7 linked regions of the Homo sapiens genome follow. The protein of the gene in region 7 interacts with the protein of the main gene of each other region in a pairwise test. Each region holds a gene or a part of one and is shown on either strand. Other genes may lie near its edges.

What was found.
Region 1: the proteins of ZNF34 (region 7) and YTHDF1 interact in a two-hybrid assay, tested with the Homo sapiens proteins (one large-scale study listed by BioGRID).
Region 2: the proteins of ZNF34 (region 7) and GCM2 interact in a two-hybrid assay, tested with the Homo sapiens proteins (one large-scale study listed by BioGRID).
Region 3: the proteins of ZNF34 (region 7) and ROR2 interact in a two-hybrid assay, tested with the Homo sapiens proteins (one large-scale study listed by BioGRID).
Region 4: the proteins of ZNF34 (region 7) and TCF7L2 interact in a two-hybrid assay, tested with the Homo sapiens proteins (one large-scale study listed by BioGRID).
Region 5: the proteins of ZNF34 (region 7) and ANKHD1 interact in a two-hybrid assay, tested with the Homo sapiens proteins (one large-scale study listed by BioGRID).
Region 6: the proteins of ZNF34 (region 7) and RSPH1 interact in a two-hybrid assay, tested with the Homo sapiens proteins (one large-scale study listed by BioGRID and IntAct).

Annotation. Positions count from the first base shown.
Region 1 is NC_000020.11:63,202,632-63,206,131, forward strand, and holds part of YTHDF1 (YTH domain-containing family protein 1), read right to left. Parts: intron 1,177-3,500; coding exon 1-1,176.
Region 2 is NC_000006.12:10,872,723-10,875,882, forward strand, and holds the end of GCM2 (chorion-specific transcription factor GCMb), read right to left. Parts: intron 2,212-3,160; coding exon 1,273-2,211; 3' UTR 501-1,272; downstream 1-500. UniProt on the Homo sapiens protein: Transcription factor that binds specific sequences on gene promoters and activate their transcription. Through the regulation of gene transcription, may play a role in parathyroid gland development.
Region 3 is NC_000009.12:91,943,729-91,947,228, forward strand, and holds part of ROR2 (tyrosine-protein kinase transmembrane receptor ROR2 isoform 1 precursor), read right to left. Parts: intron 1-3,500. UniProt on the Homo sapiens protein: Tyrosine-protein kinase receptor which may be involved in the early formation of the chondrocytes. It seems to be required for cartilage and growth plate development. Phosphorylates YWHAB, leading to induction of osteogenesis and bone formation.
Region 4 is NC_000010.11:113,142,247-113,145,746, forward strand, and holds part of TCF7L2 (transcription factor 7-like 2), read left to right. Parts: intron 1-1,676; coding exon 1,677-1,779; intron 1,780-3,500. UniProt on the Homo sapiens protein: Participates in the Wnt signaling pathway and modulates MYC expression by binding to its promoter in a sequence-specific manner. Acts as a repressor in the absence of CTNNB1, and as activator in its presence.
Region 5 is NC_000005.10:140,537,833-140,540,349, reverse strand, and holds the end of ANKHD1 (ankyrin repeat and KH domain-containing protein 1), read right to left. Parts: intron 2,265-2,517; coding exon 2,089-2,264; intron 1,432-2,088; coding exon 1,267-1,431; intron 992-1,266; coding exon 932-991; 3' UTR 501-931; downstream 1-500. Other genes in the region: ANKHD1-EIF4EBP3 protein, read right to left, coding at 1,267-1,431, 2,089-2,264. UniProt on the Homo sapiens protein: May play a role as a scaffolding protein that may be associated with the abnormal phenotype of leukemia cells. Isoform 2 may possess an antiapoptotic effect and protect cells during normal cell survival through its regulation of caspases.
Region 6 is NC_000021.9:42,482,725-42,486,224, forward strand, and holds part of RSPH1 (radial spoke head 1 homolog), read right to left. Parts: intron 3,081-3,500; coding exon 2,945-3,080; intron 1-2,944.
Region 7 is NC_000008.11:144,780,818-144,784,317, forward strand, and holds part of ZNF34 (zinc finger protein 34), read right to left. Parts: intron 1,057-3,500; exon of another isoform or gene 1,010-1,056; intron 149-1,009; exon of another isoform or gene 58-148; intron 1-57. UniProt on the Homo sapiens protein: May be involved in transcriptional regulation.

The sequences.
Region 1 (3,500 bases), on a different chromosome or scaffold from region 7:
CAGGTAGACGGGCCCCTTGCTGCTCATGCAGCGGAAGGCGCTGTCCAGGCGCTTGTTGCCGTGCTCTGTGCTACACCAGATGGAGTACTTAATGGAGCGGTGGATGTCGTCCTCAGAGTAGCTCTTGATGATGAACACACGCCCGCTTTTCAGATTCCACTCAAACTCTTTCGGGTTGTAGCTGTGAGCAGCCTTCAGTTTTTCAAGGACGGGGTGGGATTCGACGCTGGGGGCAGAATTAGGCTGGACGTTTCCAGGAGAGTTGCTATCGCTGCCAGCCCCTCCGCTCTGCCCAAACGCCGCGTTTCTGTTGCGTGGGGCAACCCAGCGGGTCTGGGGTGGCTGCTGAGGGCTCTGATACTGCGGTTGAGCCAAAGCTGGGGGCTGTGCTGGGAGAGGCTGAGCCACCTGCTGGGGCTGTGGGGCAGCCTGTGGAGAGGGTGCCTGCTGGGGGACTGGGGCCTTCGGCACAGGCCCCTTGTTATCCCAGGTGCCAATGTCCATGTTATGCTTTATGGGTGGAGGGGGCAGCCCACCCCCCATGACAGGCCCGCTCTTTGTTTTCATTTTAGGCTGTGGTTTTGCAGGCTTGCTGGCAATGGCAGCCCACGAGGTCGGCTTTGAAACTGGCATGTTCACATTTGTCCCACCGTTGCCAGAAAGGACACCAGTCAGTGCCACGCTGCTGACGACAGAGCCCACCGTCTTGACGGCGGAGGAGCTGACGTCCCCAATCTTCAGGCCAACCATGCCCTGCTCCAGGCTGTTCATCCCGGGGGCCTTGCTGAGGGTGTCGCTGTGAAAGCCTGGCTGCCCATCAACCACCGTGCCACCCAGGGAGCTCGGGGGGTAGGTGTAGCTGCTCCCATACGCGGAGCTCTGGGTCTGCTGACCTTGAGACCCACTTGTCCCCCATGCTGAGAACGCAGGGTTTTCAGGGAAAAAATTGAACCTGTGCTGATAGATGTTGTTCCCCAGGCCCCCAGGCTGCCCAAAAACAGCATCGTGCATAAAATGATGGTCTCCGTTACTGAGCTGTCCGTAGGTGGTGAGGTATGGAATCGGAGGGTCCCCTGCAGTAGACCACGGAGCCTCATTGAGGGAGTAAGGAAATCCAATGGACGGCGGGTAATAGCTGGACAGGTAGGGGTCGCTCATTGAGGGGTAACTGTTACTCTGCAAAAGCAAACGTGACAAGTTACACCACTTCTACAACACGAGATGCTGAGAATGCCAACCGCCTCTTGCTTAAGCACAGGTGGAGCAAAAACAAAACCTGCACAGCATGGGGCTACTCCTTCCAGAAAGAAAGCTGTAGTCGCCAATGTGAGAACCAAATCAAGACAGAGAAATTAATAACGAACACAAACCAGGGTGCCGTCTCAAAATACGAAGCATCATTGGCAAGGCTCTGAATTCAGGCTAAATGACGAAGCTATGCCTCTCTAGAACTGGCAAGGTAGCAGCCCCCTCTACTCTTACCTGCAAAGGAATCCAGAGGTAGAGGAGTAAACCCCTGCCTGCTGACGACAACGCTTATGACAGACACGGACGGCATCATGGGAACTGAAACAGCTTTGTAAGGCAGAGATATTTCCATTGGCAAACCAGGATGTGCAGGGCCGTGAGGCAGTTTGCTCCAGAGAACAGACCCCAAGCTCGCTGATTACTCAGCAGGCCCTGGGCGCCCACCTCTGGGCCTTGACATTCCTCCTGGGACACTCTCCCATACCTGGACCAAAGCTCTCCCAGAATCCTTCAAGGGTGCTTCAGAGGCTCCTTCCACACACCCTTCCTAGCAGATGGCCCCTGCCTCTAAGTCCAAGGGGGTTCACATTCCCATGATTTCCTGGGCACAGCGTTGGGCTCTTGCAGTAGGCCCCTGCACAGAGGGCCCTGGCTGGCTCCAGCTCCTCAGCCAAGAGAAAGCATCCGAAGTGTGGACTCTGTGCTCCGGGTGCAGAGCAGCCCTCACTCTGGATGCCAACTCACCTGGGCTTCCTTATGAAAACATGTCTGTGTAGTGACTGGAACCTCAGAGAGTGGTTTTAAAGTGACGGAACCATGAGGCAAAAAGGTCTGCTAGAGAAGGTGAGTGCCTGAGTGCCCCATCGTAGGGGTCTCTGAAGAGCTGCCCAGGGCACAAATTTAGACTGAGGGTCAGCAGTTCTGGGACGGCATCTCCTTGGAGAGACTCAACTAAGGGTCTGGTCATGATTGGGTCCCTCCAACACTGCCTTAAAATGACTTTCGTGTGAGGTGTGTCTGTATGTGTGTGCGCACACACACCTGTACACAGGCCGGTGAGACGGGGTCCAGTGTGAGGTAAGAAGGCTCCCACCTAGACGCATCGTCTGAGAGTGCCAAGATGCTATTACAGAAAACAGAGCCGGAAGTAAAACACGGGGCTCTCCAGTCTGTGACGCCCGTTTTTGGATTTTTAGTTTTCCCGCTCCCCGCCCCCCAGTCCCCCAAGTAACCAGAAGGTTCTACATAAAGAGAATATGCTCCAGACCTCATCTCACAACCTCATCCCTGCCACATTGACCTTTCATGTTGGCATCAAAGGCTACACTATGAAGGATAACAGCACCCAGTCGGGGACACCAGGTGGGAAAGTAGCTGAGGCAATGAGGGAGACTGTGGGATCCCAGACAATGAAACAGGCCTGCTTCACTGGAGGGGTGACCACAAGCAGCTCTCCCTGGGGGCAGTGCCCCAACACCAGCCAACACTGGTGGACTAATGAACCAATGACCCGGCCACCACTTCCTGCCTCCTGCTCCCATCCTAGAATACTGAGGGCTTCAGAAATCCAATTTATTTTCTAATTTTCTTCCTGTTGACTTCTCCACTTGTGAGCAGACAATTCCAGAACCCCCCCCTTTTTTTTTTGGGACGAAGTCTCACTTTGTCGCCCAGGCTGCAGTGCAGTGGCACGATCTCAGCTCACTGCAACCTCCGCCTCCCAGGTTCAAGCGATTCTCATGCCTCAGCCTCCCAAGTAGCTGGGATTACAGACACCCACCACCACACCCGGTTAATTTTTGTATTTTTAGTAGAGACAGGATTTCATCATCTTTGCCAGGCTGGTCTCGAACTCCCAACCTCAGGTGATCCACCCGCCTCGGCCTCCCAAAGTGCTGGAATTACAGGCATGAGCCACAGCGCCTGGCCCCAGAATCATCTTTTAAAATGCACTAACTGCTGTTTCCCCGTAATATAAATTTGAGATTCTGGGGGTATAAGAAGACAAGTGGGATGCTATCAGTGTTCCACAAACATGAGATTAATCTGAGCTTATTCTCCCTCAAAACAGTTTCCATGATGCTGGCTCCTTTGCTGCAGCCTTTCCCTCGGGTGCTGCCCTGGCCAACAGGCCCAGACTGGGGGGGTGAGCGAATCAGGGGGGCGGTCTGTGCACAGGACTTGCTCCTCGAGTCACTGGCCGCAGGTGCCTTCAAGGACGGCAGGCAAGGGGACAGTCCCCCCCACAGGGA
Region 2 (3,160 bases), on a different chromosome or scaffold from region 7:
ATTTAATACTTGTTTTATTTATTTATTTATTTATTTATTTTTTTGAGACAGGGTCTTGCTCTGTTGCCCAAGCTGGAGTGCAGTAGCACAAAGATGGCTGACTGCAGCCTTGACCTCGTGGGTTCAAATGATCCTCCCACCTCAGCTTCCCAAGTAGTTAGAACCACAGGCCCACTGCCATGCCCTGGGGTCTCTCTCTGTTGCCCAGAGATGAGGGCTCTCCCTGTTGCCCAGGCTGGTCTCAAACTCCTGGGCTCAAGCAATCCTCCTGCCTTGGTCTCCCAAAGTGTTGGGATTACAGGCGTGAGCCACCTCTCTCAGCCAATTTAATAAGTTTTAATGTTTCATAACAACTGTTTCCCAGGTCATAATATGAACAATTTTTTTCCTATTTCTGTTTTGAAGTCAGGCAAGAATTAGCTTCATTTAAAATGTCCTTATTACATTTAATTGAACATTATCAATTACCTTTATGAAGAATAACAGAGGAACCGTAAAGCTGTATTTCAGCAAAACATTTTAATTATAATTCTGAAACCTAATCAGAAAAAAAATGTATTTAGTACAATGGTAATCCATTAAATACAACTCATCATTGTTAGGCTGTCTCTGTTATGGAAACTATCATGTTATGAAAAGGTTATGAAAAGGTTAGGAAACTATCATGTTATGAAAAGCTAATATTGAATCTTTTAAAAACAACTGAACTTTACCATTGCTAGAGATTTTTTGAAAAGCTGTAGATACACACGTTGGAGATAAAACAATCAAAATTACTTCCTGAAGCTAGTTTAACAGGTTCTAAATGCTAAACAAAAATTTCATGAAATGACTCAGGTGATAAGATTGTAAAAATTTCTTCCTGAAGCTATTTTGGCAGCCTCTAGGGATGTGAAATTCCCTAAGGTGCTCTAATGGGAAAAGTCCTAGAATAAGAACCAGAATCCTTGACTTCTACTCCTGCTAATAAGCTAAGTGAACTTAGGTCAGTATTTAACCTCCTACAGTTTGCTTATTTGTTCATTTGAGAGACTCACACTTTCCTCACTACTTCTATGTATTGTAGCCAGTTTCAAAATGCTGTGTGAAATTTCCCATATTATCTAATCATTTCCAACTGATTATTTTCTCAGTTACTCAGAATTTTTACTACTATCTGTGTTTCTTTGCACACAAGGTGAATCTCCCAACTCAATAAGAGATCATTGCCATTTCACATTTCCCTGCCTCCTGCCTGCATGCACACTGCTATTATGTCCCCTGGATTGTCTTTCAAAAATCCTCATTGTTGTAGGTAAAGAAGGGACCCACTCTGTCTGAGTAACTGACTGCGGAGCCCAGCCCAGACAGACACACATCCCAAGTCTCTGCTTCATCTGTCCTAGAGGAAACTGGCTCGTGGGGAATAGCCACAGTGGGTCTGATGGCCCGGCAATCTCCTGCAATTTTCATAGGAGGTGGCCCTGAAGGAGAGGCTGCCCTGGTGACTGTCACCGGAGGACCCCAGGGTTCTGGATAGACAGACATCCCAGTATCTTCAGGAGCATAGTTACAGCTCGAAAGGCTCTTCACCTCTCGCACACTGTCACTGTATTTCATAGCAGGGGGCTGGTAGGCCTGGTAGGACACTTTAGTGGTGGTGGTGATCACGGTTTGTAGGGCAGGGGCACCTGGTGGTGGAGTCGTGAGGTACCTGCAGGGAAGCTCTGGGTTATAATAAGGGCGAGTGGCCATGGCCTGAAACTGCCCATGGTTAGTCCTTTCCACAAGGCTGGGTTTTCCAAGAGCTGGTTTCCAGCCATGCTGTTTGTTGGTGAAATCAAAGCTTCTCTCATAGCTGCTGTATGAATTGACATTACATTGTAGTGTGTTCAGATGAACCCAGTCTGTGTCATTAGGGATACTGGTGGAATCCTTATAAAGGGTGGGATATGGGCTTGAATTTGTATAACCAGGGTTTGCCAATTCATAGCTGCAAGGTGGCCTAGGCAAATAGATTCTTGGGCTTGAGTATTTCTGGAAGGGTGGCATTTTGTCTCCTTGAAAGGTGGCTAGGTCACAGGTAGCTTTGTAAACATCAGACTTTGGGAAGGAAGGGCAAGGCTGCCCTGGAATAGGGAAGCTGGTTTCAGTAACTATATCAAAGTCTTCTGGATTTTCCAAGGGAGGTATGTTGCTGAAATGACCACTGCTGTCTTGATTTTCTTCTGCCTAGAAAAATGATACAAACATAGACACACGCTATGTAAATCGTGTGGACACCCTCACCTGTAACAATAGCCTAGAAGTAAGTAAAAACAGACATCCATGTGCTGGGCTCTGTGTTGTGAACATGGCACTGCTCAGGTACGTGATGTAAGCACGTGGTCCAGGGGTTGCTAAGCTTGGGCTCACTCAGACATAAATACCAACGACTGAATGACAAAGGTCCATGGTAGCCAGGTAGGATGCTTCTGAGTGGCAGATGGTCCTGTTCTCACCTATACTGTCTTCCTAATAGTGGAGACTTAGGAGCCACACGGGCCTGGGTTCAATTCCTGACTCTGTCCCTCACAAATTGTACAAGCCACTTAACCTCTCTGAGCCTCAGATCCTTCATCTTAAAAATGGAACTTAATAACAGTAACCTCATTATAAGGTTTCTGCAACCATTAAATGTGTGAAACTCTTAGACCAGTGCCTGGCACATAGGAAGTGCTGGAAAATGTCAGCTTCTGTTATCCTTACACTAACACTCTGCCTGCTTGGCGTGCTTTGGTTGAAAAGCCAAACTGAATTAAATTGCGCAGAGAAATTTTATCCATTCTTGTGGATGAAATAATGGAAAGGACCCTCTCAAGGGTGCACTGTTAACTTCCTGTTGGTAGGCACATATTTCTATCTTTATTACTGTTGCATAATCGCCCTTATATTAGGATGTCAGCTCAGCACACTGACATATCAGGACTGTATCATTGCCTGTAGAGATTGTTGCTTTTTGTTTTAAGGAGAAGGGATTAGAAACCCTGTCCAAATGTTGATTTAATGATATTTTGTTACAGACGTATAATTTTCAGATGAAATCAAACCCTTGTAATTAACGTATGACCTTCATATTTTGCATAACGATCAGCGTATCTTGGGATGAAAATGAGCTGAGACCACTGTGCACTATCAGCTC
Region 3 (3,500 bases), on a different chromosome or scaffold from region 7:
GTCATGTTACTCATTTGCAACACATTTGCATTTATGTGCTTCTTTGTATTCAATTCTAGTTTCCTGCTATTCTTAGTGATTTATTTTTTGAACTTGTAGAATGTTAGCATGTTCTAAAAGTCAAAAATATACCAAAAAATGAGAATAAACTAATAGAAAGGAAACCACCTCAACATAGTAAAAGCCATATACGACAAGCCCAGCAAACATCACACTCAATGTTAAAAGACTGAAAGCTTTTCCTCCAAGATCAGGAACAAGACAAGAATGCCCATTTTCACCTCTTCTATTCAACACAGTACAGTCATGCGTTGCTCAACGATGACGATACATTCTGGGAAATGTGTCCCTGGGCAATTTCATCATCATATGAACATCATAGAGTGTCCCTCACACAAACTGCACACCTAGGCTATGTGGTGTAGCCTACTTCTCCTAGGCTACAACAAACCTATACAGCATGTGGCTGTACTGAATACTGTAGGCAACTGTAACAGGATGGGAAGCATTTGTGTATCTAACCATATAAAAGGCACAGTCATATACAGTAGTGTTATCTTATGGGACCACTGTCATATAGGTGGTCCATCGTCTGAAAACATCATTATTTGGCCCATGACTGTATTGGAAGTTCCAGGCTGAGCAATTAGGCAAGACCAAAAATAATAAAAGGCATCCAAATTGTAAAGGAAGAAGTAAAATTATGCCTATTTGTAGATGATACGACTTTACATACAGAATAAGAGCTACAAAAATGCTATTTGAGCTAATAAGCAAATTCCACAAGCTTGCAGGTTAGAAAATCAACACACAAAAATGTTACATTTCTGTGCACTAACAGTGGGCAATGTGAAAAGGAAATTTAAAAAACACAATTCCAATTACAACAGCTCGAAAAGAATAAAATACTCAGGAATAGATTTAACTTAAGAGGCAAAAGACTCATACACTAAAAACTAAAAAACATTGCTGAAAGAAATGAAAGGTCTAAATAAATGTTAAGACATCCTGTGTTTATGGACAGGAAGACAATACTGTTAAGATGATGGCCAGTGAGGTGGCTCATGCCTACGATCCCAGGACTGGGGTGGGGGTGGGGAATCCCTTCAGCCCAGGAGTTCAAGACCAGCCTGGGCAACACAAGTGGACCTCCATCTCTACGAAAAAAAATCAAAGAATTAGCCAGGCACGGTAGCGCGTGCCTGTGGTTCCAGCTACTTCAGAGGCTAAGATGGGAGGATAACTTGAGCCCAGGAGGTAGAGGCTTAGCCCAGGAGGTTAAGGCCAGAGGTAGTGAGCCGTGTTTGCACCACTGCACTCCAGCCTGGGTGACAGAGCAAGACCTTAACTCAAAAAAAAAAAAAAAAGTTAATACTACTCAGATCCATCTACCAATTCAATGCAACCTCTACTAAAATCCCAGTGACATTTTTGCATAGCAATTTGTGGCTACTGACACCTGAAATGAAGCCAGTGAAGGGGAGGAAGTGAATCTTTAATTTCTTTTAATTTTAATTAATTTTAACTTATATAGCTGTGTGTGCCTGGTGGCTACTATATTCCACAGCACAAGCCTACAATGAGGAGTTCAGGCCTAAACATTTCCTTATTTTAACTGCCCATTGTGTTAACTATCCCTCCAGGAGGGTGTGGAAACCATTAGGCTAGGAGTATTTGGGATTTAGGGGAACCCTCCCCCACTCCAGGAGGACTTGAAGCAGCCGCCACATTCTCCTCTGATAACATCTAGAAAGTGACAGAGTGCTTACTGAAGCTCATTCCAGCGACAATTAAAGACATACACACCACTTCCCACTAGAACTTAAGGATTTCTAGAGGACCAAGCTACTTAGTCGAATTAAGCTACATTTTTCTGTAATTATTTCCTTCCCTTTAGCTTTTGAGTTTTTTGCTTTTTTCAGAGATAGGACTTAAAAAGAAAACACCCACAGAAATCCCAAAAACAGTGCCAACCACACCAATAAAATTCCCTATTTTGTAAAAGCTTTATGAAAATTCCCAACACTGTTCAACAATTCTTTGGCCACTCTACGAATATGATTTTAAACAGATTACACCCCAGACATATTTTATGACAACTGCACACGCAAGCAAAGCTGTCCCGCCCTCGTTTCCAACTTGGCAAGCTCTTCAACAAAACCAAATAAATACATGCTAGAAAAAGGCGGCTGCTACAAAACCCCGGCCAGTTGCAGCTATAATTAATGGGCTGGAGCGCCTCTTGTTGCTTGGATTTTTACTTTCAAAACTCAAGAAGCCCACACTACCCACTGAAAGCCTCAACAGTGTTATGGTGGTGTTGTGGGGCAAAGCAGAACCTAAGAGCCCAAAGGGTCACTGAGAAGTAATGTTTTCAAAGCCAGTCCCTTCAACCCAACAGTCCCTTCATGAAATTGCTATTGGCCATGCAGCTGGGGTGCAACCAATAAAAATCCAGACCTAGCTAGCAATGCTTCCACTGCAAAACAAAGCCCCCTGGTTTCTTTACTTTGAAACCTTACATGCTTGGTATTCTCCACTTGGTGGTCACCACGGGGCTCCCAAAAAGGAAATATCCTAATGACAATGTATGGAGTCACAACCAATGGGCAAGAGCAAGGAAGAGCCCGCCCCGAGGAGCCCCCAAGGAGGCACCTCAAGGTAAACCCAAAATTGGGCTGCCCAGCCCTTCACCACGTGGAAACCACAAGACGCTGATGGGGTGTGGAAGAGGAGGAGGAGGGAGTCCTTCACAGTGTCCCCTCCAGGTTCCCAGGGAATGAACCAGATAAACACCAAAAGGAAAGGCCTGTCATCAAGGAACCATTTTAGAAGATGGTTATAAACCCTGGGAAGGAGTAACAGTTTGTAGCGTTAACTTTCTTTTCCCTGACTACAATGTGGAATTATATAATTAGAACTCTCCAAGGGAAAGGATTACAAAGAGTACACAAATTTCCAGCACTACAACAGACTAGCCAGGTCCTGCAGATTAGGGAGCTCAAGTCCTTCACATCCAGTTCCCATTTCACTAATAACTTTTCCCATCCTGGCCTCTCAGGGAATGCATTTTAAAGGAGTGCCAGTCCACCAGCTGAAACCTTTCTAAAGGGGATTAATCTTCCCTACCTGTCAGATGAGCTGTTCGTACCCCTGTATTTCTATTCCACTGATTTCAGAAGAGCTTCCAAAGAAAAGAGCAGTGTAAAATTCAGACTCTGCCAGACTTAATCTCTTGGAGGTTAAATCCAGGCTAACTGTTTAAGGGGCAACAAGTGATTCACTGCAAACCACACTTAAGAGAGAGACATACAAACACCAATTACAGCAGCACTTTGAATAAACAATAAAAAAAAGGTTTCACAATAAAAATAAAAATGTTGTTTAACATTGCCTTAAAAATCTGCAGAGCAGTCACCAAAAACTACCCCTGGAAAACGCACATTTTAAAAAACCCATGTTGCTTTTTTACATATAAAATATAAAGCAGACTTGTCAGT
Region 4 (3,500 bases), on a different chromosome or scaffold from region 7:
CCCAAAGTGCTGGGATTACAGGCATGAGCCACCACACCCAGCCCAGCATCCCCTTTTTATCCCAGTTGTTCATTGACTGCTTTTTTCCCAAAGGGGAGAGGGAGGGAAGGTGGGGTTACTTGTAGCTCTCCTCCAACAAGATCTAAATCAGGCAGGCAGCCCCAGCAGCCTGGTGGGGTGGTCTTGGGAGAACAGGTAAGGTTAGTGTGTGTCTTTCAGGCTACCCAGTGTGTTGGTAGGATTTCCCCTTCCTAGCTCAGTAATTGGAAGGATGGGTTTAAAGTGGTGATTGCACATCACTTTGTTAGAGGGGATTGGTAGTGTTGGGGTAGGTAGGCTGCCTGGTTAGGCGGCCTTCACTGCCCCTGAACGAAGCCACACATGAGCTGGGTTTTACTGGTCTCTGAGCCCCTTTGTGCTGGTGCAGGACTGAGCCTGGCGCTTGGATGCCTGGTGGCCTCCTCCAGCCGGCCCCAGGCTCCACCAGTGAATGGCAGCGTCAACGTCTCATTTAAATAATGGTAGTACAGGGAATAGCTTTTAAATGGTTATCGTAAAACATATGATTAACGTCTGTGGACTGTTTACTTTTCCTCTGCGAACATTCTTTCAAGTGTGCAAATGGCTCGATGTAGGGTCCAAGCCCAGCTAATCTGTTTGGTTTTTGTAATAGAGAGAAAGCAATGTCTGCATGAAAATGTCACCCAGGGAGACTTAATTTACAGATTAAAAGCTTCCTGAATGAATTTTTTAAAAAATGAAGTCGTTTTCGTCCACGAACATGCAGCCCGTTCCCTCCATTACTCTGTTTTAATTCTGTGGTATTGTGCCTTTTGCCTCCCACTTCAATGGCATACATCAATTCCTCTCTGTCAGAGTGGACTACAGGATGTGCTCCTGTGGAACTGGCAGATGTGCGGTGGCACGTACTTGCAGAATCCGCTCATGTGTGCCTTGTGAAGCTCTTAGCCCCTGCGACGCACGCGGTGCCCATTCAGCAGGTGGGCTTAATCCCCACAGACGACTCTGTCCTCTAGCGGATGAAGTTCCAGAATGGAGTACACAAGCCTCCAACACCTCCTTGTCTGTTCAGCTCTGACTCTGCCTTAGATAAGATGCCAGATGGCATTTGATCAGTTTCTCCAGCTCATCCAAATAGAGGCAGAGACATTTTAGAGGAGTCACCATTTTTGAAAAAAGGCAAGGGTAGTAACTTTTCAAATGCCACAGCTCAAAAAGTGTGTTAGAAATCAGAGGAGTAGCTCTTGTGCAGGTAAGGCATGAAACTCCGCAGGGTGAAGGGCCAGAGTTGTAAGAGCAACAGGGATTACCATTGCTTCATTCTCCACCAGGTGCTGAGCCTTTTTGATGTTGTTTCTTTTAAACTTGAAACAATCACACCAGTCACATGAGGCACAAATACCCAAGATGGCATATCTTGAGTCTACTCAGTATACCAGTCCATTTAGAAGGAGATAAACTAATTTTTCAAACTGAGGCTGAGGGAAAATGAGATGAAACCTACCAACAACTCAGGATTTATAATCATGAATGAACCTTGTGCTAGGATTCCAGAAGAGATGCGTCTCTTCCTCCTTTCCCTGTTCCCATCCCCTAATGGATTGCTCTTTCCTTCTCTCCCTCCTTTGTACCTAAAATGCTGCTTCTTCCCTCAGGAATCCCACGGCCTCCGCACCCTCCAGATATATCCCCGTATTACCCACTATCGCCTGGCACCGTAGGACAAATCCCCCATCCGCTAGGATGGTTAGTACCACAGTAAGGAGTTCCATTTTTTAATTTCCTTTTTGTTTCTTACATGGGCATGTTTATTATTTATTCTGTGTGTGTGTCTGTGTGTGTGTGTGTGTGTGTGTGTGTGTGTGTGTGTATGTGTGTGTGTTAGAAGCCAGGGTTGGGGAGGGGGCTGCGGGAGGGCACAGAAAAGGTGTTGCTGAGGTGTCCTGTGGGAATACAGGCAAATCCACAGCCATTCAGGTGGCTTATGTTACTGGCACTTAGCATTCCGCGACCATGGTCCCCAGAGGCTCTGTGGACAGAGGTGCCCTGCAGTTCCTTTGGGAATTGCAGAAGACTACTGGAACTTCCACCCAATGAAGCTGGTCATGACCCTTCTGCTGTTGGCTGCCCAAACTGCAGTCATGTCATTGGGTTGAGGCTGTCGAGTCCTCCATTTTAGGTGTTACATATTTTGGGGCACAGAAGCAGGAACAAGAACGGCCTTGTTTTGAAATCCAGGGTTGGGATTAGGGCATGTTCTTGTATGATTCCAGGACCCCCCACCTCATCCTGAACATTACTCCCAAGGTTGACAACAACAGTGGAAAGTTTTGTCTGTTGAGAAGCTCCATGGGACTGAATCAGCATCTCTCTGAGAGTCTTTGCACGTTGAATGTTTTACCTAACTGTGAACGGTGGGAATGGGGCATTTGGAACCGTCACTGCAGCATGTGGGGCCTTCGTAAGCATCAATCCTAGCTCCTGGCAGTGCCCAGATTATTTGACTAACTTTTGCAACTTAAAAAAACTGTGTTTTAAATTCAGAGTAGAAAGGCCTTTGATGCATTAGCATACTGTGGCAGGTTGTGTGTATGTATATTTTTGCATGAGCATGTGTGTAATATGTGTTTCGTGATTGTTTCTGTGGATGTATTTCTCCTTACCAGTGATCTGTACTCTGAACAACACAGGACAATACATTGAATGCTAAAAGGAATAAATCCTGGTAAAACTCAGGTTTGAGTCTTAGGGAAGATGGCCTTTCAAAGCCTTAAGGAAGATAAAATTTTGGAGTGGCTTACCCCACAATTCTACCCGTATTTCTCTAGTTAGATAGATTCTATGCTGTTTTTTTTTTTTTTAATAAAAAACAGATTGCATTATGTAGTAGCTGTACCAAATACCAACCCTGGGTATAGTTTCTGTTTCTCTGTCTCTTCTTATTTTTATTGGGACGGTAGACATGAACATGAGCTTGTGACCCATTTCTTCTAAATAGATGGGGCCAACCCTCGAATAGTTCTCAGTGATCATTTGCCCCATTCGGCTGATGGGGAGATATTTGAAGGCTAGATAAAAAGGAATAGCCAACTCAGACAACCCTCTGTCAGAAAAAGTTGTGTGTCTTTCATGAGGATGCTATTTTGCATGTTGCTGTATTTTTTAATTATTGTAATGAGGTGTGATTGTCTATTGGTTACCCACAATTCTTCTTGGGGACTCTCCCCCCGGTAACTCTTGTCAACACTTGTTAATTTGACAAAAGGCTACAAATTAAGCTCTGTTAATTTAATGTTTTCTCACCGAGATCTAAATACCGAAAGAGGCCCAAAGCGCAACTGAAGTCCTTTGATTCACTGTACTTTATTTTGGTATAAATTTACATTCATTATTGTTTTCCTTTGGATGTGTAGCCCTCAATTAGTGTGATGGCTCCATTAAAGCAAGCGAGACTTCGCCTTTAATTATTACAACAAAAC
Region 5 (2,517 bases), on a different chromosome or scaffold from region 7:
TACAACAGAATGACAGGAGTCACCTCCTTATGTCCCAACTCATATAAAGCTTAAAATATCTATAACCAGACAAATCTTTCAGATAAAAAAGGTCAGGAAGCACAGAAGGAACCTGAAGTTGATAATTTGGGTGTCCCTACATTTGTTTAGTGTCATCTGATTTAAATCCAATTGTTCTTATTGACATTCTCATGATCCATAGAGAAAAAACCTATCAGTGGCCTATCTGCTAGCTAAAGTCAGATAAGACACATTGCCAGAGCTTGAAACTTTCTCATATGTTAAAGGATTATGGAAGACAACAAGGGAACAAGGAATGTTTAACACAGAATAAATAGGTAAATAGTCTTAAAAGTGCTTTTTTAAGGCAGTCTAAGAAGGGACTCAAGTGTTAAATGTGAGAAGCCTGTTACAAATATAGTATTAACCATCTGGTTCAATATAATGTGGATTGAGTGGTACCTGCATGACCACTGAAAGGATCACACCCCACTTCTAAAGACTGTTCATCTTTTTATTGAATATTCTGGTAAATATTTCACATTAATACAGGCTACATTACGTAGAGCCACTATATGACAAGAAATTTACTCAACTTTTTCCTTTTAAGTATGTAAACAATTATACATGTATTTATCACCCTAAAAGGTTGAAACATGTAATCAACTAATTCTCTTCTGCATACAAGTAGTATTCTGTATGTTTAGCCAAAAGCACTAAGGTCATATGATCTTAAGTTCAAAATGGCTAAACTAACCAGAGAACATAATCAGGTGGATAGGAAATCAATTTGTTCTTATACAATGGGCAATCAAATTTCCATTGCTAAAGCCTCAGAGAAAATTTCTTAGGCACATTAAAAAAAAATCCCCATGGTTCTTCCAAGGTCATAGGTTTCTTAAACAAGGCTAAAGAGTAAAGACCTTCTAACTTAGTTGACATATTTGAGATGCATGTTTCCAATATGAGGTGCCCACGTGCCAGGCCAAATCTGAAAAGGGGGAGGAAAAATTGGAATTTCTAATTAGGAATCTTTAGACAGTTACAAAATGAATATATAAATGCAATGGCAATTCACTGTTTCTGCCTAGGAAGAATACACATATATTAAATAAAGTGTTCAGTAGCATCATCTTGATATTGAAAAAGCAATCCAGATCGAAATGGTCAATTATGACTTTTGATATTCAGTACTTATACTTCTCACAAAACAAAAAGAATGATGTGACAAATCTAAAAAACAAAAGAGCATTAAGCCCATTTTACCTGCTGGGCATCAGTGCATTCAGTTGAATTTTGGATAACTTTTATCATAGGGTTCCAAGCAGGATCTGGATTGTGAAGTCCATTAAACAGAGGGCCTCCTGGAACATCAGCAAGCTGAGGATGAGAGGGTATTATGGTGCCTCCATACATGGAAATTGGCAGACCCTAAAACAGCAGGAAAAAAGATTTAATCTTAAAATTACTATAAATTATAAAATTACTATAAATCCCATAATACCAGCTTAGACTTCTCTAATATTCCTCATTTAAAGAACTCCAAAAGATCCTATAAGTACAGTATGGCAGTGTTGAGAAAACAAAATGTTTATCTGCATCTGCAAAGCTTTTCAACAAAAAACAAGAGAGAGAAAGAAACTAAATCCAATATGAAATCATCAGGAAATTTCTCATATTTGATAAAAATAACCTCAACTTTCCCATATTTTAGTTTCATGAATAAGCTTGAGCTAAGAAGAAAATGGGAACTCTACATAATTGATTGCCGACATAAAGCTGTCAGAGCAGACAAGAAAGCATCAGTGAACTCATGGCCAGCTTTTAAGAGGGGTAGAGGCCTCCCTCAAAGCTGTAGTAGCAGAGCACAAAGTGGCAAAACCCAAATCCCTCAGGTGTTTTCGGGGGATGGGGACATCTTCAGGACAAACTACTGTGGACAACTCTGTGCACTCCTGAAATTAAGCAAAAGATCTAGCAAAGCCACAGAAACAAAAGGGAGCATTATTTCAATACAAGGTATTCCTTAATGTGACTACATTGGCTGACAAAGTGTCAATCAAGTTACAGTGATGTTTGTCAACTCACTTTAGAAAAATCCACAAAACCACTTGCCATAGGCTGATGAAAAATGTTAGAGGGGGCTACCATTCCAGAATCATCTCTCTCCATTGGCTGATGTTGGGAGAATGTGCTTGGGTCTGATAATTGTTGATGCATTGGATGGTTCCCCATCACAGATTGCGACCAACCTGATAAGCCTTCTGGAAAGAATAATTGAAAACAAAGTTTTAAATTTATTTGGATAAAACAACAAAACATTACCATTGTTATTACCAAACATGACCAAATGTTACTGAAATCTTTCCTCTGAAGAGCTCAAAGCGTATTTATCACAGTCTTGCTAGCCAAAAAAAACCAGTTCCTGAAAAACTAGGTAAAGTCCTCTGAATACTCCACTTTACCCTGTCTTTTAAAAGATTAAGTACTCTCTGAAAGAACTCAAATGATTATTTA
Region 6 (3,500 bases), on a different chromosome or scaffold from region 7:
ACCATTCTTAAGTGTCAACACCCAGCAGAAAATACAAAATACAAATGTCACCACCACAATACCCACCTCAAATCACCAAATTGGGTAAAGTGTAACATGGATTAAGGAATGCTTTTGTGAACTCGTGGCTGATGGGATTGGAACTTATATGCCCTGTTTTGTTTACTTTTGGAAACTTTAACCACATTTTACTTTTTTATAAAAGTGATGTATTCATTTTCAGAAAACCTCAGTGAATCAGTATCCATAGGCAAACTAGCTACCGATGGAACTACTACTAATATTTTGATGCATTCTTTGTAACTTTGCTTCTAGTATACATGGTTAAATAAAAATCTGATCATAATTATACATACTAACTCATACTCTATTTTTACTGAGAAATATGGCATGAACTACTTCCCGTATTTACAAATATTCTTTCCTAATAACAGTTGCCACCTGGTACTTTATTTCATCTATGGATTGCAACCTATTTTACTCAGTTACTATTGTTGGTATTTGGGATACTGATTTTTTTTTTTTTTTTACAAAGAACGCTCCAGCAAACGTACTCTGAGTTAAAACTTTATGTACGCTTTTGATACCATCCTTAAATTCTCAGAATTTCTGGACAAAAGCATACATGTGCTTTGATTAGATGAGGCTCTAATCGTTTCATTCCCATAACTGCACTTAAGAGTCCCAGATCCTCAAACTCTTGATTTTAGGAGTGTAAAAATGGTCTATTTTTACATGTTTTTTTATATAAAACAACAGGGTCTCACAATTTTAATTCACTTCATTTCAGTTGTTAGTAAGCCTGCATTTTTTTCAAGATTTTTAGCCATTTAAATCACATTGATTGATAAAACACTTTATATATTAAATGTTGCAAATATTCTCTCCCCATTTAACAGTCATCTCTTAGATTTTCTTTACAGCATTTTCTAATCTATAAGAAGTTATTTTTATAAAGCTAAACCTATTGGTTTTTCCTTTCTATTTCTGTTTAGAAAGTTCTCTTTCCTCATTTCAAGGTTAATATTCATCTACATTTTTTTTCTATATTTCCTAGGGTACATTTAAATCTTTACTTCTTCTAGAAAGTATCTTCATCTGTGTGAAGGCAAAACTATTATTTTCCTCCCAAATAATTGTCAAGTGTTCCTAGCACTATGTCTTGACTCCTCCCATCATCCCTTTGTTAATTTGACACGCTTATTGTGTGTGAAATTATTTTATATACTGGGAACTGTCTCTGGACTTCCTAATTTGCTTCATTGGTGTGTGTGTGTGTGTGTATCCTGGTATCACACTGTTTTAATTATTGAAGTTTTGTGGTATTGATAACTTGTCCACAAGGACATGTACAGGGAATTTTCTGAGGAAGAAACACAAACCAGCAATAAACATGTGACAAGATGTTTGACCTCACTAGTAATCAGGGAAGTACACATTAAAACAATGAGATGACATTTTTTACCCATAAGATTGGAAAAGAACAAAAACAACATTAAAGACTGAGAATATCCAACATCGATGAGAATATATGATAAACAGACTCATATTCTATTGGCAAGAGTATAAACTGACACCACTTTTTAGGAAAATGGGCACTACCGATTGTGATTCTAAATGCCAATCCTCAAAGGTTTCACAATTCCATTATCTAACCTACACAATAGTCCCAAATGTGCAAAATGACAAATATGTATCTTTATGTATATTTTTGTATCCTGACACAGTATGATCCTAATTATGTAATTAAAACCCCCAAACAATAATTCTGTGTCAGATGACTGTATTAGAATGTGCTTACATGACACACAGAAATAGTGTGGAAGGATTGGGCCCAGGGTGGTGGGGCAGGATCCTAGTGTTTAAATGCTTTACAATTGGAATGTACTTGTGTATTATTTGTATAATTTAAAGTTTTTTACTAACTAGCAAAACAAAGCCTCCATTTTTACCCCGATTTTTCAGACTGGTTTAGGCTGGACAAGCTGATTGATTCTTCCAGATTCATTTTCATCAAATTCTCTTCCTCTGCAACCACCTTCCCATCTCCTCCAAAAAGACCCACAGAAAGTTTGCTGGGAATTATATAAACAATGTATGGGTTTGAGGGGAATGTGCTGTTTTGATGAAGACTAAAAGTAAAATCTGTGGTTAGGGCATGAATTATACGTAAATGAAAACTGGGTTCTAAGAGAGTCTGAAGAGACTTCGTTGTATCAGCTAAACATTCCCTCTGTCAACTTCTAACACCATCAATTTGCTCCGCAAATTCTCTCTTCAGGGAAAGTTTCTGCTCAACCCCTGATCAAAGCTACCACGATGGCCTGAGTATTAGCTTCTGAATTATTCAAGGTTTCTCTGTACAATAAGGGCAAGAGGAACCACCGAGTCTTCCAAACAGAAACGGCCCACCATGGGTGCTAGAAGCTGGCAAGCCTCCAGACGCAGGGCCAGGCCCTTGGCAGCCTTAATTCCCACCACAACTAGGAGCACGCAGGCTGGCCTGTAGCATGAGGAGGGAGCTGGGGGTCTTCCTCCCCAGGGATGTCGCACCTCCCCTTCCAGGGAAACAAAACCCAAACACCTCTATGCTCAATTGCAGGAAATAGATATTTGGTATCTGATTTACCCATGAGAAGGAATACACACAAGAGGTTCAGATGCCCTCTCGTGTTATATAACAATGCAACAGGTCCCCGCTGAAAGACAGTGGGAATTTGTACTGAGATCCAGAGAAACGGGCCAATCCCTCCCTTCCCCCAATTCTGTGCTCTGTGGGTACCAGAGGCTCAGAGAATGGCACAGCTGTCCTGTTCTCCACATTTGAATAGGCCGGACTCAGTTTTCTCTGAGTTTTTGGTATTCTCTGGTCACACATTTGCACAGGCTGCCAGAGGGGGTTATTTTGTACTTCATTGGCAAATGTCACTTCCCATGGACTTACATTTTTGTTCAAGAACTTGCCCTGGTACCTGTGGTTCAGGTGAATGAGCTCGGCCGTGCCCTCCTGCTGTCCGTTCACCCAGGTGCCAACATACTTACTGCCCGTCTCCGCGTATAAATAGGTGCCTTGCCCATGCCTGGTTAAGACAAGGGGAACATGGTATTTCGTTCCAGCACAGTGAAAAATCTCCCAGGTTTAAAACACAGACATTGACATTGAGGGAGGCCCAGGCTGTTGCAGGCTCACAAGCGATGTAGCTTCTATATCTGTGTCCAGTCAGAAGGTGCCCCTTGCTCAGTGTGCCCCAAGCACAGGACATTGCCAGAGGCACAGAGGACAGGCCAGCTGGACAGAGGCAAGCCTCCTGTGTGTCAGCTGCTTTCCCCAGGGAAGAGGCAGAGCTAGTGGGAGCTGTGGCTCAGGTCCCCCAGTGGCTCTTCTGTGCCCTCCACTCCCTGGGACTCTTGGGTGAAAGACTCACGTGCTCTGCCCCAACTGAGGTGCAGATGTCAGATACTTGAGTCTACACTTGCACAGAAAGGCATCCTTGCCTCAA
Region 7 (3,500 bases):
ATCACTAATAGGAATAAAAAAAACACTGCATATTACTGGCCAGGCGTGGTTGCTCACCCCTGAAATCCCAACACTTCGGGTGGCTGAGGCGGGTGGATGGCGAGGTCAGGAGATCGAGACCATCCTGGCTGACGGTGAAACCCTGTCTCTACCGAAAATACAAAAAAAATTAGCCGGGCGTGGTGGCGGGGGCCTATAGTCCCAGCTACTTGGGAGGCTGAGGCAGGAGAATGGTGTGAACCGGGAGGCAGAGCTTGCAGTGAGCTGAGATCGCACCACTGCACTCCAGCCTGGGCGACAGAGCGAGACTCCATCTCAAATAAATAAATAAATAAATAAATAAATAAAAATAAAAATAAAACACTGCATATTACTAAAAGCCCACCAAAAAGCTGTAATAATTACAAACAGTATGGATCTACCAAACAGGAACTGGTAAATCCTCCTCTGGAGTGAGTTTTTTTTTTTTTAGACGGAGTCTTACTCTGTCGCCCAGGCTAGAGTACAGTGGCGCGATCTTGGCTCACTGCAAGCTCTGCCTCCCGGGTTCACGCCATTCTCCTGCCTCAGCCTCCCAAGTAGCTGGGACCACAGGTGCGTTTAATTTTTTTTGTATTTTTAGTAGAGACGGAGTTTCACCGTGCTGGCCAGGATGGTCTTGATCTCCTGACCTTGTGATCTGCCCGCCTTGGCCTCCCAAAGTGCTGGGATTACAGGCAGGAGCCACCATGACCAGTCGAGATTTTTAACATACTTCCCTCAGAAACAAGTGGGTCAAGTAAACAATCTCATGCTTAAAACATAGAGAACACACATTGTTTTCAACATACTGAACATTACCAAAAAAAACAAAGCAACAGAGAAAGTTTCAACAAATCCCAAAAGAATATATCATTTGGCAAAACAATTTCTATCCATATTGTTGTTATATTAGAAATATATGAAAAGTAACCCTCTCCCCAGAGACATATAGAAATGGAAACTAAAGTGGAAATAGAACCAAGCCTACCTAAAGAAAATTGTGCATCCTTAATAGACTCATTTTAACAGGAAAGCCTGAAATAAATAAGTATTCAGCAAGAAATCAAATGCAGGCTGTGGCTCACGTCTATAATCCCAGCACTTTGGGAGGCCGAGGCGGGTGGATCACTTGAGGTCAGGAGTTCGAGACCAGCCTGGCCAACATGGTGAAACCCCATCTCTCCTAAAAAATACACAACTTGGGGCTGGGCGCAGTGGCTCACGCCTGTAATCCCAGCACTTTGGGAGGCTGAGGCGGGTGGATCACGAGGTCAAGAGATCAAGACCATCCTGGCCAACTTGGTGAAACCCCGTCTCTACTAAAAATATAAAAATTAGCTGGGCATGGTGGTGGGCACCTGTAATCCCAGCTACTCGGGAGGCTGAGGCAGGAGAATCACTGGAAACTGGGAGGCAGAGGTTACAGTGAGCCGAGATCGCACCACTGCACTCCAGCCTGGCCACAGAGTGAGACTCCGACACAAAACAAAACAAAACAAAACTTAGCCGGGCATGGTGGCGTGAACCTGTAATCCCAGTAACTTGGGAGACTGGGGCAGGAGGATCACTTGAATTCGGGAGGTGGAGGTTGCAGTGAGTTGAGATTACATCACTGCACATTCCAGTCTGGGCGACAGAGTGAGACTCTGTCCAAAAACAAAAAACAAAAAACAAAAGAAAAGAAATCAGATACAGAATAAGAAAGTAACTCAAGGAGGGCCGGGCACGGTGGCTCACGGCTGTAATCCCAGCACTTTGGGAGGCCAGGGCAGGTGGATCTCTTGAGCCCAGGAGTTCAAGACCAGCCTGTGCAACATGGCAAAACCCCTCTCTACAAAAAATACAAAAATTAGCCAGGCATGGTGGCATGTGCCTGTAGTCCCAGCTACTTGGGAGGCTGAGGTGGGAGGATCGCTTGAGCCCAGGAGGCAGAAGCTGCAGTGAATCAAGATCGTACCACTGCACTCCAGCTGGGGTGACAGAGACAGAACCAAAGCCTATCTCAAAAAAAAAAAAAAAAAAAAAAAAAAAAAAAAAGAAAAGAAAATAGATGGAAAAGTAGAAAAGGAAATGTTATCAGGAACAAAAAAGGAAAGAGTGTATATTTAGGGCAATTTGAATCTATGCTCCCAGGTTAAAATAAAACCATTTTAAATAGATTAAAAAAAAAGAGCAAAAGGCCAGGTGTGGTTGGCTCATGCCTGTAATCCCCATACTTTGGGAGGCCAAGGCGGGAAGATGGCTTGAACCCAGGAGTTCAAGCTCAGCCTGTCTCTACAAAAAATAAAAAAAATTAGCACGGATTGGTGGCACATGCCTGTAGTCCCAGCTACTTGGGAGGCTGAGGTGGGAGGATCACTTGACCCTGGGAAGCATAGCAGTAGTTCTCAGAGTGTGGCTCAGGGACCCTGGGGTTCCATGCATTCAAGTTTGTGTTCGCAACACTAAGAGGACACATTAGAAGCACTTGTAGTAGATTCAGTGACAAGAGAGGGACGTTCCCTCACCCTGCTGCTATTCAACATCCTAGCCAAAGCAGTAAGTTACAGAAAAAAGAAATATAAGCTACAAGGATCAGAAGAAAAAAGACAAAATCATCATTCTTTGAGAATGATAAAAATAATCTACATAGAAAATCCAAGAGTTATCAATCCACTGTTGGAATGACAGGAGTTCCACAGCATTGCCATATACAAGGTCAACAGAGAATAATTAATACCACTTCTATTTGTCAGCAATCAGCAACCGAAAACTGACCATTCACAATAGCTACAAAAACTATACAGTACATTAAGTCTTAAAAAAAGATATGTATGTAATGAACAACATTATAAAACTTTATTGAAGTACCTTAGAAAGGTCTATGGAGAAACAGACAATGTTTCTAAATAGGAGGGCTCAATAACATAAAGATATCAATTATCCCCAAGTTAAATTTATTTTGTGCAATTATAATAAACATTTCAACAGGACATGATATCTGACCAAAATGACTCCAAATATCACATGAAATAGTAACGATCTAAGATTAGCCAAGGCAGTGTGGCCAGGCGCAGTGGCTCACGCCTATAATCCCAGCACTTTGGGAGGCCAAGGCGGGAGGATCACGAGGTCAGATCGAGACCATCCTGGCTAACATGGTGAAACCCCATCTCTACTAACAATATAAAATTAGCCCGGCCATGGTGGCAGGCGCCTGTAGTCCCAGCTACTCGGGAGGCTGAGGCAGGAGAATGGCGCGAACCCGGGAGGCGGAGGTTACAGTGAGCCGAGATCACACCACTGCACTCCATCGTGGGTGACAGAGCGAGACTACGTCTCCAGAAAAAAAAAAAAAAAGATTAGCTAAGGCAATACCAAAAAAACAACCAAAGGAGGCAAGGGTGTGCCCTACTAGATATCAAGACTTAGGCTATGGTAATGGAAAGTGAAGTTTAAGTATAGGAAAAAAGATAATGGAAGACATCTATGGATATGTT